Linked DNA regions of Homo sapiens: region 2 is linked to region 1. Evidence: fine-mapped expression QTL. A gene starts in region 1. The other region holds a variant in brackets. All regions are shown on one strand. Distances are between the middles of the regions.

Region 1 (5,392 bases):
ACGCAGGGCAGTTGTTGGAGATGTTGGCAATGATTTCCTGGGTGTGCAGGGTGGGCAAATCTTGCCAAAGCATGAATGTCAGAGCATGCCATGAGAGTGAAAAACAAGTTTCCCTGCAAACCTAGCTTTTCTCTCTGCTACCCTCTGACCAAGGAGGGCAAAGGAGAACTAAAGAAACCCAGAGATTCCTGGCAAGAAGATGTATGTCACAGACAGGGAGGGGAGGGGTAGGGTAGCACGCCTCCTTCTGGAGGAAACAATAATTTCCTAGAGGTAGAAATACCAAAGTCCAAGACATCCAGTAAGAATGCTGACGGCTTACTAGGATAGGAAGATTGTTAGTCTATCTGAAGTTGGGGAGACCCTTGTCTCCCTCATACTCTGATGCTGACTCATGTTCAGGGGTGGGTTTAGGGCAAGGAGTACATTGACCAGTAAGACCACGCTAAGCAGAGAATGAGGTGTGACACACCAGACACTCCAAAAAGTCACTCTGTTCACTTTTTATTGGGATGAATGAAATAATTTATACTTTGCTTATTTCCACAAAAGAGTTGAGATAGCTAGCTCTACTATACACTATGCCATCTTTTCTGTGGCCTATCTCTGATGACTTGTCTTGGGCACTTCATGGACCAAATCCTTTTAAAGATGTTGGCCTTTCTTTTTTTTGTTTTTTCTTGATTTTCTTCTTAAAATGTTGGCCTTTCTTAAGCTATAATTAAAGCATATTTTGATGTATGATAAGGAACCACTTCATTTTAAAAAGTAACAGAAATTAACTCTTGGAAGTGGACTTGAAGACATTTAAAACAGTCTACTTATTTTAAAAAAATCCTTTTAGAGATGAGCTGACAAAAGAGATGCCCTGGGCAATAAATAAGGACATATATTTCATTGATGATTTGTTGGTAAGAAGAGGTCTTGCTTTTATAAATCAATATCAGACATGTTTCTTTGTATTCTGAGAAGAACTGTATCCATTTTTTAGTACTTTGAGATGATTCACTGATCAATGTGAAAAGGAGATAACTCACTCTTCTAGTTCACTATTCAGGCAGCTGTTGAAAAGCTTTGATTCTTTCTCTAAAAATAGTTTGCTGTGGGACAGTATCAATATCCTTTCTACAAAAGATGTGTAAAAACTTGGATATCACAACAGACATGACATCTCCAAAAGATTTCACTCTTCTCAGGGTGAAAACTGGCAAAAAGGATTCTCTCCATACACATTGCAAGTATGGGGTAGAAATATTTTTAAATTACAGGTTTGAATAAACGATATAGGAAACAATTAACCCTTTCATCTTTCACCACTCTTAAAAACCGTGTTTCACTTGAAAAACTCGTTTGTCTTTTTCCAAGATGCTTTGTCATTATATTAAGTGATCCGCACAAGTACCCTGGGAAGGCTCTTCTCTGATTTTACAATGAAGGCAACCCTAGAAACAGGATTCTGACCTGAGACAAAGTCACAGAATCTGAAAAAAAATCTAGATTTTGCTACACGATTTCTTCTTTTAAGAAAACCTCAGCTGATCCAGGCTCCAAACATCCTGTGATCTAGGGAAAACAGGCTAGTTGATTTCTTGATCATCCTGAAGACATATGTGAGGCAGGGATATAGGTTAATAGGCTCAATTCTCTCTTTGTTTAAGTCAGTCACTAATAACGTATTGTCCTCTGTAAGGCACATTCACTCTTTAGAGTCATTTTGGGGAATTAAGTATTAAATTGAATTCCATATTAAATGGAATCAGGATCTCTCTCCCAGAATTCGAAATTTCCCATTATGCGCCGATTTAGAAGAATCTCAGTGCTGCAACTAAGGTAGGGAAAGCCTTATGAATTGGGACTAATTTAGAGAAAAGTCTAGTTTGAATTATCGAACTTTTGGAATGAGAGTAGGTACCTAAAGTTATGTAGTTTTATTACTTTCAAATCAAGCCAATAAAACTACTTTCAAGAGACTGTCTGCAAGTCTCTAATTAATAAATAGCCAGAACTTACTTGTAATTAGATTCATTAAATTCCCTAAGACATTATTTTCATAGATGTAATGGCAACCTTTAGCCCAGTCTTTGTTAAAGGACTACGAATTCCAGATCAAAGGGGTCTGGATAAATAAGAACATGTTACACCACATTCCAAAAAGCAAGTCTTGCAACCTTAGAAATTACCCCTTTCCAATGGATGTATTATCTCAACATTTTTAGCAGCCTTCTCCTAAATGTTTCCTAATGTCACGTACAAAAACATAGGGAATTTGCATGGAAAATCTTCCACTAGGGAAAAGGAAAACACCTTAATTTGAAACTGAGCTAACATGTTGATTTGGGGGCTTTACGAGCAAGGGTATGAACAAAGCGGGGCAGTTGGAGAAGCGGAAGAAGAGAAAAAGAGGTAAGGTGGATGAGAGAGGAGGGAAGGTGAAATGTTTTATACATTTAATACAATTTTTGCTTTAGGGTTTACATCTTGATAATTTAGTTTTAAATATAAGAGGTAAAAAAGACAAGGTATTTAACAAGTAAACAATTTTAAAAGTCCTTCCCTGACTTTAAATACTTCTTTATTTATGAAACATTAGCTGAACAGACACGAAATACAGCACTGGGTCAAGCTTTTTCCTTTATGGTAGATTTCATTTTCAAGGCTAGATTGTTGGACCAAAAGATATTTTCCAGAAACCTTATCTGAATTTTGTTGATGAAGTCTTGTAAGTAGGCCAATTTAGGTTCAGTTTCAGGAAGTGAATGGACTGATCACTGGTATATTCTTGTCAAGTATTTCCTGCAGATAGGACTGTACAGCACAAAATTAGCCGATGGATGACCAGAATCTACTTAGTCACTGCAGGCTGTGCGAAAAGCCAACTTGGATAATTTCAGAACATAACTGAATCTAAGTAGCCTCAAAGATATTCCCTATTGGAACCCTTGAAAATGAGCATATTCACTCAGACTAACAGCAGAAAACAGCCTGTGGTAGAGTAAACTCTGTCTCCTCCAACACTGTAGATAAAACAAGAAGAGAAACAGTCATTTCTCGGGATGACAACATGTTAAAAAGGACCTATGCTTTTTAAACCCAAAGTAAGAGTTTTATTAATTTCTTTTTATTTTATTGATTCTCTTCCTGTTTTAAAAACACTTGCAGAAGTAAAGAAACCAGACATTACACTCATTTAGTTATTTATGATTTGGGAAAAAAATTCAGTTCTTGAACATGTCAAAAATGAAGAGCACAACCAGACACCTGGATGATCACAGACCATGGATGTTAGAATTTGATTTTAATTTGAATTTAAACTTAACATTGCATTCTGGAAGAGGACTGGGAGGGGACTGGAGCTGGGCTAAGCTCTGTGCTTGTGGACCCAGGGCAATTACCTTGCAGCCTTCACACGTGATACAGCGGTAGTGATACCCGGTGGCTTTGTCACCACACACTACACAGAGCTCGTCCTTGTCTAAGTAACTGGGGATGTACCCTGTGAAGGAAATAAAAGAAGGAATATTAAAAAATAATATGTTAACGTCAAAGAGACACTATAGCTAAGGTTGCTAGGCCAGAGACAAAATTGGCTTGCCAGGAAGAGGTAACAACAGTAAAGACTTAGTGAAACCAAACGGTAAGAATTTTATACTCATAGAGTTAACATAGGCCCAGGATTTCAGAATGCCTTAGAAATAGCTCACACCTATAATCCCAGCACTTTGGGAGGCCCAGGCAGGTGGATCACCTGGGGTCAGGAGTTCAAGACCAGCCTGGCCAACATGGCAAAACCCTCTCTCTACTAAAAATACAAATAATTAGCCGGGCATGGTGACAGGCACCTGTAATCCCAGCTACTCAGGAGGCTGAGGCAAGATAATCACTTGAACCCAGGAGGCAGAGGTTGCAGTGAGCTGAGATTGTGCCACTGCACTCCAGCCTGGGCGACAAGAGCGAAATTCTGCCAAAAAAAAAAAAAGAAAGAAAGAAAGAAAGAAAGAAAGAAAGAAAGATAGCTGTGATCACTTGCTGTGCAGGTGGGAATGGCAGGAAGGCTGTAGAGCCAGTGACTCAAGCAGAGAGGCCAGGATTTGAGCACTGTGAGTTCTAGATAACACAATCTATTTAACAAGGCTTATTTCAAAACCTGTTTTCACAAGATTTGATCCACTTTGGAATCACAGTACCATGCAATGAATTCAGAAAACTTTATAGCTGGAAAGGTCCCGGGAGATGACGAAGTCCTTGTAAGGTGAAGAAACAGGCCTGCAGAGGTTTGGCCTTCCTCAGGGTCTCACTGGAAATTACAGGCAGGACTAAAACCCCAGTCTCTTAATTTCTAGCCCTCCAGTGTAATATGCTGGTCTTTTTCTAAAAATGGAGAGTTGACTTTAAGTAGAATGAATTTTGCCACCTAAAAAAGTTAGGTAAACTTGTGATATTATGATATGCAATCCAACAACACTGGATAGTGTGAAATGACAGAGGTTTTGTTTATTAAGAAAAAAGGAAAATCCAACTATGATAACTCTCTTTTTTAGTGGACAATGAGTTTATTAGTTTAAATTCCTTGACTCAGGAAGCTAAAAAGCACAAAAGCAGAAGCCTCCTGTTTCCCTCCTGTCTTTGCTCCTTCAGCTTCCTGTGGAGAGGATGCCCAGACACAAGATGCTGATTCAGGAGGGCAGGTTCATTCTCCCCTCTATCAATGGTTTACCATTGATAAATTATGTGATATATAGAATCACACAGCTTCACATAAGACCAAACAATCAAAATGAGGCAGGATTGGTTGGGATGTGAAGAAGGAAGAGGCTGAGAAACAATCCTTTCTCCCTATCATGGTCCTTATGAAGTTTTTTGACTCAGTTCAGCAAAGTCTTCTTTGTTCCAATAAAGATTAGCTAGGTTGAAATGACTGATGCCTTACTGTGTATCTTACCGTGACATTTCATAGACCTTTTATTAAACTAGGTCACTGAAGTCTTGCTTTTCAGAAAAAAAGCCATTAAGGAAACAGAATGAAATAAATCCTTTTCATAATTTCTTAGAAATTATGTTGCTCCAACTTTAATTTAGAAAAATGTTCCTTCTTGGGAGGCAGATAATTGACTTGAAAGTGAGGTTTAGTAATGTACAGGATTATATTTTTAAATATCACAGCTTTTCTTAGTTTACTTTTGCATCATGCAAACCATGATTCATCTGTTGAGTTCACTGCAAGGGTTTCAAAACTCTTGTCAGTCATTTTTAAAAAGGGAATTCTGGGAAGGATCTGGGCAGAGAAAAAAGGGAACTAGAATGCTTTGCGCGTTCATTCAGTCATTTATCTATGAATTCAGAAAACATTTATTTAGCATCTACATGTGCTTAGCATTGTTCTAGGTGCTGAAAA
Region 2 (5,392 bases), 12 kb after region 1:
GAGATTATTTATTTAGTACTCAACAGTTCACTGGGTGGACTGATCACATCTGTGTTTAAATTAAAAAATTCAAGTATAGGGGAAGAATAAGGATGGGAGAGAGAGGGAGAGAAAGAGAAGATAGAGGAAGAAAGAGATGGAGGGAAAGTAGGAGAGAGAGACAGAGGGAGAGGAAGAAGGAAAGGAAAGGAAAGCTTGAGAAAGAAACATTCCCCAATTTGCTACTTAATTTTCATTTCAAATGCCTATGTAATTGTTCACCTGGAGTCAACAGAGCTACAGAACACACACACACACACACACACACACACACACACACAGACAGAATTCTATCTCCAAGTCAGAGGAACAATGAAAGCAGATTCAGAAAGCACAGTCCTGTGTGGAGTTTCTGCTTCAGTTATTAATTTTTATTCCTGCACAATTAAAAATGTGGTTGTAGAGCAACAACATATACAATCAGAACCAAAACTGAATAGGACAACCCTCCCCCACCCCCACCCCCACCCCCATCTCCTCGATCCTGGCTTAAAAACAGGAAATTCTTATTCTCTTGGACATGATAAGCATCTCTGACAACTTTTCAAACATGCAATTCCTATCAAGTAAGATGGCATGTAGAAGGTCAAGCAAAGAATCCCGTGGAGGAGAGTCGCCCAGGGCAGACTCCTAGGAAGGTTTCTGTTTCAACAGACCCGGCTGGTCCAGACTAAATCGAGAGGTTGACCTGCAAAGCTGCCTTCAGAGCAGCCAGATGCAGATGCAGGCTGTTCGGGAACTTCGGAATGTGATTAGTATTTGTGATGGAAACAGCTAGCACTTCCACCCACAAAAGGATTTTTTTTTTTTTTTAAAGAAAGAAAAGAGAAAAAAAAGTCAACTTTTTACTTTGCTGCAACCTCAGCCACAGAGCAGAAAGCACAACAAATAACCTGTCTGCCAATTCTCCTCCATCTGATTCCAAACTTACTGCCTTCTTCTCCTGAATTTGCAGGGGCCAGAAGTGTGCAGCCAGCACTGGCCCCGTGAGGACTTAGCATAGCATTTCACAGCTATGTCACTAGAATTACAGTAAATATCATATCTTCTGAGTGAATGATAGGGTTCTTTTCATTTGTCCCTAACTTTTGAAAATTAAAAATTTGTTTTTTCATAATCCATATGAAAAATAAGACAGACATTACATTCTGCATTTTAGGCCTCCTCAATGTGAAAATTACATCGGTTTTCCCCTCCTCAATTCTTGAAGCTTTATTTTAAATGTGATTCAATGAACTGACATCTGACTCTTCCTTAGTTCGTGTTCTTAATGCTTCCAGAACTTGATAACTTATTCTGTCGGCTATGAATGCAAAAAAAAAAAAAAAACTTTGTAGAAAAACAATCCAAGGGAAACTAAAAGTTATTCTAAAGTCTACCAATTAAGATAACCATTCTTAACATTGGGTAGTGTAGCCTTCCTTTATTTCACCAGTTTGTACCTATAATTTTTTTATAAGATTGTAATTTTTTTTTACAAGATTCTCTGTATATTAGAAAATAAAGGCTAGGAAATAAGCCATCCTTAAAAAAATAAAGAAAAAGTTAACACAGCTGCAGTATTGGAGTTTATAAAGCTGTAATGACAGCCATGAACACAGATGAAGCAATTATGAACTTTTATCTATTGTGAATAGATAAAAATCCAATTGGAAAATGAGGCCTACCCCACTGAACACCTGTTTATGGTCTTAATTTTGCCTTAACGAGACACTACTGATGTCATTCAACACAACAAAAATCAATAGTGGATCAATATGGATAAACATGTTGGGTACAACCTTTTGTCCTAAGAGACAGTTAACAGCTGGGTTTAGTTTTACTGGGATTTACTCGAAGACTTGTAAAAGTAAATAATGGTGCATTTAAGAATATTTGCCTGTTTTGATTTAGTGAGTTTGGCAGGTGGCGGTGGCCTTTCAATGACATATGGCTTTGAAATTACATCAATATATGCATACAATGTGTCTTTTCCTTTAGTTCATGCATCAAATTAATTAATAAAGAACCCCTGGTTTAACATTTTATAAGCAAATATTCCCCAGTGTTGGTTGAAGAAAATACAGTGAAAAGATAAAAGAGAAAAGAGCCTGAAACGTTCTGCAGGAATTTTTAAGAA[C/T]AGCAGAATGAGCACATAGATTGACAGGTACCAATATTTTCTTACAACACTACAAAAGGCATATCCAAGTATGTTTAATGAGGCAATGTTAATTTCTTCTTTTCAAAGTTAAATTACTTATACTATTAAATGAAATAGCACATGTTCAATGTACCTCAAATGTTTCCATTAGGGGACTTACCCTGTGTATCCCTTGTAATAAATGAGATTCTGATGACCTTCAAAAGGATGCAAAACTCTATATTTATAAATAAAAATCAAGATGAGAAACTCTAAATATATTTCATGCTGTAATCCCCTTAATATTTCATGATTGGAAGTTATAGAATAACATTATATATAGTAAAAATTACAGATTCTAGTTTTTGTTTTTATAAAATTTTGTTCATTTGTTTTCATAACAGACTACTTTCAATTATAAAGTCACATTAAGAAAAGCAAATGATAAATTTTATAGAAACCACAACTAAATAAACCACATTATGTTTTAAGATTAATTTAACAGAGAAATTTACCTTTGAGGATCAAAGGGCATCATGTTTTTGTAAATTATAGAAACTCGTAAATTTGGTTCTCTATGCAATATCCTATAGATTATATACAAAAGCATGAGATTCTGGCATATCTGCACTAGCATTTACACTATCTTCAAAAGCATTCCTATCTGGCAGTTGCTACTTAATGTTCTACCTGTTTGCCTCCCTTATTTTATTTTTCAGTATCTTATTTTTCAGTAATACAAGAAATGTTCTATTGACAGAAATTTAAATAGCATTATAAAGCCACAGTGTCTATTAAGATAAATGGATATCGTACTGGTTTTAATATTGGCTATTTTGAAGTGTGTTTCACTTGCTTTCATAAAGAGAATTCACTTGATATGATTACAGACATGTTCAACTTTAGGGACAAAATAGCAAAGTAAAGTTTCTCAGTTTTTGAGTTTTACATCTTACAGTTTGACATGGTTACAAATAGATTCTTTACTGTTTACATGGATAAATAAATACATTAAAATGAACATTTACAGATCCTAGCAAATCAACATTAGTATAGTACTGTTAAAGAAATCACTAAATCACTAAATATTTTACTAGTTAACTAGTCAACTAAAATAAACTTTCAAAATGAAGTGCCAAGGAAAAGTCAAATGAGTTTTTAATCTGAACCTGAACTAGAGAGAATTATCTCACTTCAAACACCACAACACCTACCCGCCAGAAGGAAACCTTTCACATATTTTCTTTCGCAAAGAAGCCAACAATAGTCACTTTGGGCAATATATACACACACATGCAAAATACAGAAAGGCAACTCACTCCAGCTTTCAAAGATGAAGAAAAAAAGTGCTTGGAAATCTTGATGTTCACAGAGTCCTTCAATCACCTAGCAACCCCTCTTACTGCCGTTTTTAATTTCAAATATTTAGCGTTCAAATTCAAAGATTTGACGAAGCTGATGTAAACTGTAACTTTAAAATGAAACGAAAACAAACAGTGAAACTTTGAACAAATTTAAGCAAAATGGTCCCTACCTTTTTTTTGAGAATACGATGGCGACTGCACTTGAGAAAAAGTAGGCTTTTCTTCAGTGAAATATTCAGGTTGGCTGTATTGATTCAGGGCCATGTCCAAGTCAGAGTCCTTGCTTTTAAACATGTTTCCAGGGTAACTACAGGTATAAGGCTGATTCACTGCCCAGGCCTGTTCCATATATATGTTGTTACTGGGCACAGCCTGAGCATCGCAACCGCTGTAACCCGGACTATCTTCAAAATACGCGTAATAATCAGTGGACTGCATGTAGCAATTGCTGCCGGCAGCTGGGTGCACTTCATATATTTCTTGCATACAGTAGTTCATTTTGTTTCCCTGGTTCAGTTTCTAGTTTACATATACACACAGTCTACGCATGCATTCTCCAGCCCCATACACCCTGAGAGCTGGGCATATACGCAGAGAAGCATACATACATACACATGAAACGCGAAGGGAAGATGAATAAACACCACCACCAACACAGCAACCCAGCCTGCTTTACTTTGTAATAGCACCTGATGTGCTAAAATCCTATTTAGACCGAGGTGTCTTTTGAGCTCTTCTGCCATCCAAACATATTGGAAAGCAGATTTATGACTATCAAAGGTCTTAAGCTGTGCATGCAGCTAGTTAATTCCTGGGGAAGATGGCAGGCAGGTAGGAATGACCTCCACCCAGATAGGGAAGTGACAGCGAGAATGTTACTCTGAAGCTGCTAAGATGCATTTTATATGCTGTTTTTAACCCCTTTCAACATGATTATAAAACGATTACTCATTGTTATGTCATTTTGGTTGACAGCTTAAGCATGAAACATTATAAAGACATCTTAGAGAATATCCTTGGATACAAAGAAAATCCTAAAATCAATAATCTAGTTTATTAGCATGAACCAGAGAAAATCCAGTAGTAATGAGCCTGATGACTGACTGACTCCAAAACATTAATCTAGCTGTGCAAATATTGGTGGTTGAATCTGTTGTTGAATGTTACTGACTGGGTTTTCATACTAGGATCCAACCATCTTCCCATGACACATAGGTCCCGCTGGTTTTTAAAACATGCCAAGGAAGTACACGGTTGAAAATGCTGCTGATGTCTGCAAGTGAGTTTTATTCTGTTCCTTGCGCATGATTATTTTCTACTTCATAAGCACTAATCTACATGAGACCTAAAGCTTACATTAACTGTTCAATTCTGTAATTTATGTTTTCTTTATAAAGGCATGAGAGACTGTATGCCAATGCCCCTATATGAGGAATACCCCTATTATATAGCAGCTTTCCTTTTCTGTTGGTGCTTAACAGTACTCTGATCAGTAGTGCGTGGAAAACTGTAAACACTTACCACTTTATTCCCATTCAAATCTGCTTTTGAGATTATTTTCAAGATTTAATGTGATTTAAGTGGTATTCATGTACTTACTTAAAGATAGTGATCAAAAAGGGAACAGCATTTTCTGTAAGAATCATCATATCTTTTAACTAAGGAGTTAACAAATACCAAATTAGATTGTGAATGCTTGCTAGGATGATTACTAATGGTATTTTCTCCCTGTGGATGGTGGCCAGTGTGTGCATGTCACATATATGCATAGTTGTAGATCATGACATCAGGAAGGGCGGATGCTGCTCTTCTACACTAGGGATTCCTTCCGTTTCTTAGGCAGCTTGTTTTCAGGGCTCGGCCTCAGGTG

The links. PIP is the estimated chance that this variant, and not a neighbour inherited with it, causes the effect. A credible set is the group of variants that fine-mapping cannot tell apart.
Region 2: its variant is the best candidate, but not a certain one, in a credible set for the expression of THRB-AS2 in pituitary (GTEx, PIP 0.86).

The regions. Positions count from the first base shown.
Region 1 is chr3:24,148,998-24,154,389 of GRCh38, forward strand. THRB-AS2 (THRB antisense RNA 2) reads left to right here and starts at 2,327. Exons shown (of 4, transcript NR_121667.1): 1 at 2,327-2,403. It overlaps THRB (thyroid hormone receptor beta), which reads right to left. Exons shown (of 11, transcript NM_001354712.2): 6 at 3,393-3,493. RefSeq lists a silencer at 4,017-4,217.
Region 2 is chr3:24,161,335-24,166,726 of GRCh38, forward strand. All of the region lies in intron 5 of THRB (thyroid hormone receptor beta), which reads right to left. All of the region lies in intron 1 of THRB-AS2 (THRB antisense RNA 2), which reads left to right. Among named protein-coding and RNA genes, the nearest start is that of THRB-AS2, 13 kb to the left of the region's middle. The variant C/T (reference allele first, on the strand shown) is at 2,159.